2 separate regions of the Homo sapiens genome follow, and region 2 is linked to region 1. The links come from fine-mapping of genetic effects on plasma protein levels. Region 1 holds a variant in brackets. A gene starts in the other region. All regions are shown on their reverse strands.

The links. A credible set is the group of variants that fine-mapping cannot tell apart. PIP is the posterior inclusion probability: the model's chance that the variant is causal. Protein levels are from antibody-based Olink assays in UK Biobank. Linkage for the fine-mapping came from a reference panel and not from the study's own genotypes, which makes the PIPs less certain.
Region 2: EGF starts here. The variant in region 1 is the best candidate, but not a certain one, in a credible set for the plasma level of the EGF protein (UK Biobank, PIP 0.90).

What each region holds. Positions count from the first base shown.
Region 1 is chr9:96,428,821-96,433,228 of GRCh38, reverse strand. No RefSeq gene overlaps it. Among named protein-coding and RNA genes, the nearest start is that of ZNF367, 13 kb to the right of the region's middle. The variant T/G (reference allele first, on the strand shown) is at 2,592.
Region 2 is chr4:109,910,092-109,914,499 of GRCh38, reverse strand. It overlaps EGF (epidermal growth factor), which reads right to left and starts at 1,617. Exons shown (of 24, transcript NM_001963.6): 1 at 1,038-1,617. The coding sequence starts at 1,164.

The DNA.
Region 1 (4,408 bases):
TAAATAGGGGGTGAAATATCTGAAAACTCTTGCTTCCAACTAAATAGAAATGCTGAGCAACACAGTGTACTTGATTCTTTTGCTTAGCATCCAATATCATTTCTGCCATTACAGTAAGTCTTTAAAAGTGGTTGGGTTTTCTAAATTCATTATATAATTACCCTCTTAAGGCTGAGTGAGCACTTAAAAATGCAATTCCTAAATTGTTTTTGCCTACATGATATCTCTGCTATTGATGTTATCATTTATCAAACACTGTGATGGGACATATTATTAAAACATATCTTAAAAGAAATTCAGGCTCTGATGAGCACTACGGCATAAAGCAAAGAAGAGTGGATTTGTGCCAGTCCTAGCCCTACCCCATGTGAGCCATATGGCCTTAGCAAAGCCACTTAATCTCTTTGATATTTTTCTCTTTAGCTATAAAACGCAGATACTCTGCTAAGTCAGCCCAATAAGAGATGTTGTGAGGGTCGAATAAGAAAATACATAGAAGAGCTTTGAACACCTGCAAAGCATCATGAAGGGTTATGATTATATCAAAATAATAGTAAGTCATCAACTTTTGAGCACCTGATATAGCCAGGGAATTCGGCAAGAGCTCTGGAGCCATCTTTATCTAAACTCCCAGACAAGCTTTCCATGTAGTTGCGGGGGATGGTGAACAGTATGCACACAAAATACGTGCACATCTTGGCCCGGCACAGTGGCTCATGCCTGTAATCCCAGCACTTTTGGAGGCCAAGGTAGACAGATCTCTTGAGGTCAGGAGTTCAAGACCAGCCTGGCTAACATGGTGAAGCCTTTAGTAGAAGTCTCTACTAAAAATACAAAATATTATCTGGACGTGGTGGCGCACACCTGTAATCCCAGCTACTCAGGAGGCTGAGGCAGGAGAATGGCTTGAATCCAAGAGGCAAAGGTTGCAGTGAGCCGAGCTCATGCCTTGCACTTCAGCTTGGGTGACAGAGCAAGACTCCATCTCAAAAAAAAAAAAATTTGCACATGTGTCTAATGACACTACATTAGATTCTAAAATGTACCTCAGATAAAAATGTAATTCTTGAGGATTGGCTGACTCAAACTGTATCTTGGCATGCTAATTTATACCAAAAGGGACAGATTGAACCATAGACCCTATGTACTAGACACCTACCAATTAGAGACTACCCTTTTGTGTGTGTATGTGTGTGTATCCCCTCTGGGTCTTATTCTTTTGTCCATATTGCTTTTTAAAAATTATATAGGCCAGGCACTGTGGCTCAAGCCTGTAATCCTAGAACTTTGGGAGGCTGAGGCAGGCGGATCACCTGAGGTCAGGAGTTCAAGACCAGCCTGGCTGGCCGGGCATGGTGGCTCACACCTGTAATCCCAGCACTTTGGGAGGCTGAGGCGGGCAGATCACGAGGTCAGGAGATCGAGACCATCCTGGCTAATACGGTGAAACCCTGTCTCTACTAAAACTACTAAAACCCCGTTTCTACTAAAAATACAAAAATTTAGCCAGGTGTGGTGGTGGGCGCCTGTAGTCCCAGCTACCCGGGAGGCTGAGGCGGGAGAATGGCGTGAACCCGGGAGGCGGAGCTTGCAGTAAGCCGAGATTGCACCACTGCAGTCCAGCCTGGGAGACAGAGCAAGACTCCTCTCAAAAAAAAAAAAAAAAAAAAAAAACAAAAAAAAAAACAGTCGGGCGCGGTGCCTCACGACTGTAATCCCAGCACTTTTGGAGGCCAAGACAGGCGGATCACGATCAAGACCATCCTGCTAACACGGTGAAACCCCGTCTCTACTAAAAATACAAAAAATTAGCCAGGCCTGGTGGTGGGCGCCTGTAGTCCCAGCTACTCGGGAGGCTGAGGCAGGAGAATGGCATGAACCCGGGAGGCAGAGCTGGCAGTGAGCCGAGATTGAGCCACTGCACTCCAGCCTGGGCGACAGAGCGAGACTCCGTCTCGAAAAAAGAAAAAAGATAATATTATTACCTCCTTAAAAGCAGAGAAAGCCTTTGGAAAAAAATCCACATACATTCGTCATAAAGCACTCAGGAAGATAGGAATTAAAAAATACGTTCTTAACATAATTGAATGTTATTCCTAAAATTAGTTTCTTATTTAATGGGGATACACTATAGGGAATTCTAGCATTGGAAATAAGGCAAGGATGTTCACTATCCACTACTTTTCAACATTGTATTGGAGGTGTTAACTACTATGATTAGATGACAGAAATCAATTACAGGTTGAGCATCCCTAACCTGAAAATCCAAACTTGAAAATGCTCCAAAATCTGAAACTTTTCGAGTGCTCACATGATGCCAGAAATGGAACATTCCACACCTGACCTCATGTGATAGGTTGCAGTCAAAATGCAGTTGCACAACATGGTTTATTCAGCATCCCCAACAGAAAAAAAGACCCTCCCGGCCCCTTTCAGCTGTGGTATATCTTTTCTGTGCATGCCCAGATTACCCCCCAACAAGCGTGCCTGTAAAGGGTAATAAAATTGTACATATGCAGCTGGATGCACCAATGGCAGGTTCCCCACAATGCCCCATATAGGGCCAAGACCTATGTGCATTACTCACTGTG[T/G]TTTTTTTTTTTTTTGCTTATTCTCTGCTCTGTGTTTAAAGATATTGTTGGAAATGCCAAAAAGATACCCCTATGGGTAACAGTGATAAGAAAAAAAAGAAGCACTTATGTTTATCTATAGCACAGAAAGTCATGCTGTTGGAAAAATTGGATGGCGGTGGAAGTGTGAAATGCCTTACAGAACAGTATGGTGTTGGAATGACCACCATATGTGACCTGAAGAAACAGATGGATAAACTGTTGAACTTCTGTGCTAAAAGTGATGGATAGAAGTTAATGAAAAATAGAAAAACACTGCAAAGCTGAAAATGAAGATCTTGATCATGTATTGAAAGAGTGCATCCATTAGCATTGCAGTGAGCATATGCCACTTAATGGCCTGCTTATCATGAGACAAGCAAAGATCTATCACGATGAACTGAATATTGAAGGGAACTGTGAATATTCAGCAGGCTAGGTGCAGATTTAAGAGAAGACACAGCATTAAATTTTTTTAAAGATTCGTGGTGATCATGAAGCAGCAGAGAAATTAACTAGTGTGCCAAGGTCATTGCTGATGAAAATCTGACAGCAGAACAAGTCTATAATGCTGATGAAACATTATTGTTTTGCTGTTATTACCCCAGAAATACATTGACTACAGCTGGTGAGACAGCCCCTACAGGAATTAGGGATGCCAAGGACAGAATAACTATGTTGCAATGTGCTCATGCAGCAGGCACACATAAATGTAAACTTACTGTGACAGGCAGGTGAAAAAGCTTGCTGTTTTCAAGGAGTGAATTTTTTACCAGTCCATTGTTCTGCTAACAAAAAGGCAGGGATCATCAGGGACAGCTTTTCTAATTGTTTTCACAAACATTTTGTACTAGTGGCATGTGCTCACTGCAAAGAAACTAAACTGAATGAGGACTGTAAGATTTTGTTATTCCTTGATACCGATTTTGCTCATTCCCCAGCTGAAATTTTCATCAAAAATGTTTGTGTCGGCTGGGTGCGGTGGCTCACGCCTGTAATCCCAGCACTTTGGGAGGCCAAGGCAGGTGGATCGCCTGAGGTCAGGAGTTCGAGACCAGCCTGGCCAACATGGTGAAACCCCATCTCTACTAAAAATACAAAAAAATTAGCTGGGCGTGGTGGCACATGCCTGTAGTCTCAGCTACCTGGGAGGCTGAGGCAGGAGAATCGCTTGAACCCAGGAGGTGGAGGTTGCAGTGAGCCGAGATCGCTCCACTGCACTCCGGCTTGGGCGACAGAGCATGACTCCGTCTCAAAAAAAAAAAAATATATATATATATATATGTGTGTGTGTGTGTGTATATATATACACATATATACATATATACATACATATATACATATATACATACATATATACACATATATACATACATATACATATATACACACATATACATACATATACATATATACATATATACACACACATACATATATACATATATACATATATACACATATATACATATATACATATATACACATATATACACACATATACATACATATACATATATACGTATATACACATATATACATATATACATATATACGTATATATACATATATACATATATACGTATATATACATATATACATATATACGTATATATACATATATACATATATATACATATATACATATATATACATATATACATATATACATATATACGTATATGCATATATATACATATATACATATATATACATATATATACATATATACACATATATACACAATATACATACATATACATATATACACATATACATATATATACATATATACACAT
Region 2 (4,408 bases), not on the chromosome of region 1:
GGAACTTCCTTAATGGGAGAGCCAGGACAGCAGCCTAGCTTTGGCAGTTTGGCTCCATTCTGCTCTCTTTATTCAAACTATTGCCTATTGTGTACTGTCTTCCATAGGTGTCTCTTCTGGAAACTGTACTGTGTTTTCCCCCTCAATCTACCTCTTTTTAAAAGCCAGACGCCATCTCAAAAGGGCAAGCTGATAAAAATGGAATGTCGGGGCAGCTATAACCTCTCATCAACAAAGGCGGCTGCCGTGTCTAAGCAGCAGGTTGGAGGCTCACCCAAGGATTAAATAAATGAATTAACAGTTAGAGAGAGAATGTTTTTCAGGCAATATCCTTTGGCAGGATTGTAATTCGCATTCAGTCAAGCTCCCATTTCCCCTTGGCAAAAAATTCATTTAATATGAGAGGACAGTGTGGCTTATTTACCCATTATCATATTTGGCAGTTCTTAAAGTTGCAATGCACCTGTTACTAAAACTCCGGAGTTGTGTCAGAGCCTCAGAAACAGTAAGAGTGGGGAGAAAGTGAAGGAGGTTGAAATTGAAATTTAGGTTAATTTTCACAACTACCTTTGTTCACAGTTCCCTTTCCATTTTTCACTAATTTTTAGAACTTCTGAATTCTTACAAGTTATCAGAAGGAAGGATTTTTTTCTTTGTGGCTTAAGAGTTTCAAACAGACAAACAAAAAATCAACCATCTGTTTCCCTAATTTCCAAGCAATTAGCCAGGTGTTAATTACTCCTCTTGTCAGAGTAAAAGCTGAAGCTTCCATGAAATGTTCTGCTAGTTTAAAATGAGGCATATTCATTCACTTATACACAGAAGTACAGTTTGAGAGTTATGAAGTTTTATAGTTGGTAGCAGATTAGCTCTAATGGCCAGTAAGAAAATAAACATGCATCAGAAAACAAAAATTAAGCAACTATACATACCCAAAGACAAACTTTGTTAAATGCCCAAGTATACCAGATTGAACCAACAGGGATGTGGGGGCAGTTTCCCGGAGACCTGGAGCACCTTTTCATTGGAGTACTTACCCACACAAGTAGAATTCCCATTTCCTGCGAGAGTACCTTCAGGACAGCTCCAGTGCTGCGGTGCTGAGAGACTAACAAAACTAAATTTTGAAACTACTGGCAACAGAATGATAAGAGTGAGCAGCATAATCTTGATGAGTTTGAACTTTCAAAAGAAAACAGCTTGATTTTGCTGGAGCATGGCCCGGGCAAGGTGAGTATGATTGACCCCAGATGCGGCTGCCTGAGCGGAGGCCTCAGCCCTGGGGCATCTTTTACTCTCCTGTTGTGCTGTTGTCCTCCAAGCTCTTTCTTCAACTGAGAGACCTTCTGAATGCAGCCTGCCAAGGGAAGCCACAGGAAAGATTTCTTTATCTATGTTTCTTTGGAAGCCAGTAAGAAATACCTGACACCCTTATGACAAATTTCACAGAGTTTAACAGCCCTGCTCTGGCTGACTTCACTGTGACAGAGCAAGGCAAAGGCTTAGAGAGGAAAAAGAAAGGAAGAACTGATGGAAAGTTCCAGCTACAACCCTTGGATTGGGGCTGAAAGAAGAAATATGGAGATACGATTCCTCTCCCAACAGTTTCTCTTTTTGAAAAGTGGAATGACTCAGCTTTGCTTTTTAAAGCTCTTCAGGCTCCACCTCCTTTCCTTTAGTGACACTTGAGTGAGCCTCTGTTTGCAAATGCGAATGTGGGCAATTCCTCCACACAGGAAAGCAGGGATGACTGCCAAAGAGGAGATAACTCGCTACTCACCATAAATATCCTGGGCAGAACTGGGAGAGAGGAGTTGGGGGCTGTGGAGGTGCTCATGGTGAATGGCGGGAACTGCTAAATATTGGCTATGTTTTAATGTCTGGAAGGATGGAGACAAAATTAAACCATGCAGTATAAATCAATAATAAGCAGCACTGTTGATAGTTTGGATTGATAATAATTGATCATTCACATGAGCAATAGTAAAGATAGTTCACCTTCAGCCCATTATTTGAACGAAATGTCAATACCAGTGCACATTCCAGGAGCTTTATCTTATTTTTCTCTTTCTCCTGTATAGTTTATAGCGGAATTTGAAAGATTATTCTTTCCAAATCAAAGGGAAATCCCTGAGGCCAAATGAAGAGATACAGTATGGACAGACACCTTTTCTTTCAGCATGAGCATGATAAAACATCACGAGGGGCCAGGAGTGCAGAGAAAGGAGTGGATTGTTATTATAGGGACATTGGAAAAAATAAGCTAACAGTGCAAAGCTGGGAAGCACTGGAAATCCAGCACAGAGGAATGCTTTTCCTTCTAAGATAATTTAGGCTTTTTTTTTTTCACATCTCTGTGATAGAAAATAAGAACTGGACGTATCTGTTAGCTGTCTCCTCAACCACTTTCTACTTGGAGCAACAGTGGTTATTTCTTCAGGAGTACAACTAGGGCCCAAAAATACCCAGAAGGCAAACAACTTATAGCAGATTTGATGCACGATGGAAATTTCTGTCAGTTTACTCCATCCTGGAAAATGGACTTTCATTTAAGTTACCCTGAGGTAGTGTTCCAAGTGCTGGTCAAAAATGTACGTAAAAGCAATAGTCACAAAAACAACTGTCACACTAGTGAACACCCCATTACAGAGGAGAACAGACTAACTCTAAGCCTTTTACTCATACTTAATTATGTCCTGATTATTCTCCAAAGACTGGATCACTTTCCTGAAACAGCTTAAGTCAGGATTTCTCCTATTTCAGCCAGCCTCTGCCAGGCAGCTCTGAACCCTTACAGGAGAAACAGACCCTGGGGAAGGGGGAAAGAGAAGTCCTTTAGGTGGTTATGCGGAATATTCCATTGCTTTCTGGACTGAGTCAGACTCAAGACTCATAATGAGCATCCTACAAATAACCTGCACTGACTCTTCGAGTTACTAACTTTATTAATAAGCTTCCCTTTCAGCACAATACATTGCCAGCATCCCAGATGACAGCAATGGAAGGGGCTTAGAGGACAATCAAGCATCACGCTGTGTCAGTGGAGTGGAGTGGAGAGAATGATATGAAGACAAACATGAAATGATCCACAGCTCTGTTCTGTTTGGATTTGGAATCTCTCATATTATTTTTGGTTGGAAAAAGGTTTGCTTTCTTAATTACATGTCACCTGGGCTAATGTTGTCATTAATGTTGAGTACAAGCTCCCTAGGAGATGACGGAGTCAACAGAGGTATAGCAGATGCTATGGCTGATGACTGATGATGAAAATCAATCGCAGCTAATTCATCATCTACAGTTGCCCAGATAGCAAAATCATAGGACAGAGCTACCCAACTGGGAAGGATTTACAGAGATATTTAATAAGTTTATATTCCAGCCGGGCGTGGTGGCTCATGCCTGTAATCCCAGCACTTTGGGAGGCCAAGGTGGGCAGATCACACTTCAGGAGATCTAGACCATCCTGGCTAACACGGTGAAACCCCATCTCTACTAAAAATACAAAAAGTTAGCCAGGCGTGGTGGCACATGCCTATAGTCCCAGCTACTCATGAGGCTGAGGCAGGAGAATTGCTTGAACCCAGGAGGCGGAGGTTGCAGTGAGCCGATAACACGCCACTGCACTCCAGCCTGGGTGACAGAGCAAGACTCTATCTCAAAAAAATAAATAAATAAATAAATAATAAGTTTATGTTCCTACTTCTGGATAAAACTGAACCTTTCTTGCACTCAAGAAAGGTTGAAATAAACTCTTTATTTTAAAATTGATAAGAAATGCACTATAACTTATAGGTTTGAGCTGCCAAATATGATTTAATTTCTGGAATTGAGTTAAAGTTAACTAATTCATTCGTTAATTAAACAGCTATATATGATAGAGCACTGCCTGGAGTACAAGAAACAGAAGTCGTAGTCCTTAACATCAAGAGCTTGCTGAGGTTGATTAACAGCAACAACAGAGAGTATGAGTATGAGCTAATGAATGACCAGCCACCAAGTACATGACTGGTCACAAACTGGGTGTCAGGAAAGAAGGAGGGGAGCTGCAATGTACTTTGGACTACAGCATGCAGTGTGAAGCTCTGTGGAGTAATTAGGATGCCTCAGAAGGACATAGAGAAGGAGAAGGGTCATGCTGACAGGATGTGGAACAGGAATGGACAAAAATTTTTTTTCTTATTTAATAGTTCCTTAGATCCTGAAGGGACACAGCTGGGTGGGGGAAACCCTGCTGGTAGGTCAGTAAGAAAGTTAGACATTAATAGCAAGGAGATAGCTCTGAATGGTTATAAGTGTGAGTGGACAGCAATAGCTGGAAGGGACTATTGGGACATATGTTTATGTGTGCTTGTCATAAAATTCTAACTTTTCCGATGAAATTTCCTCATTGAAACACAGGGCACCTAGT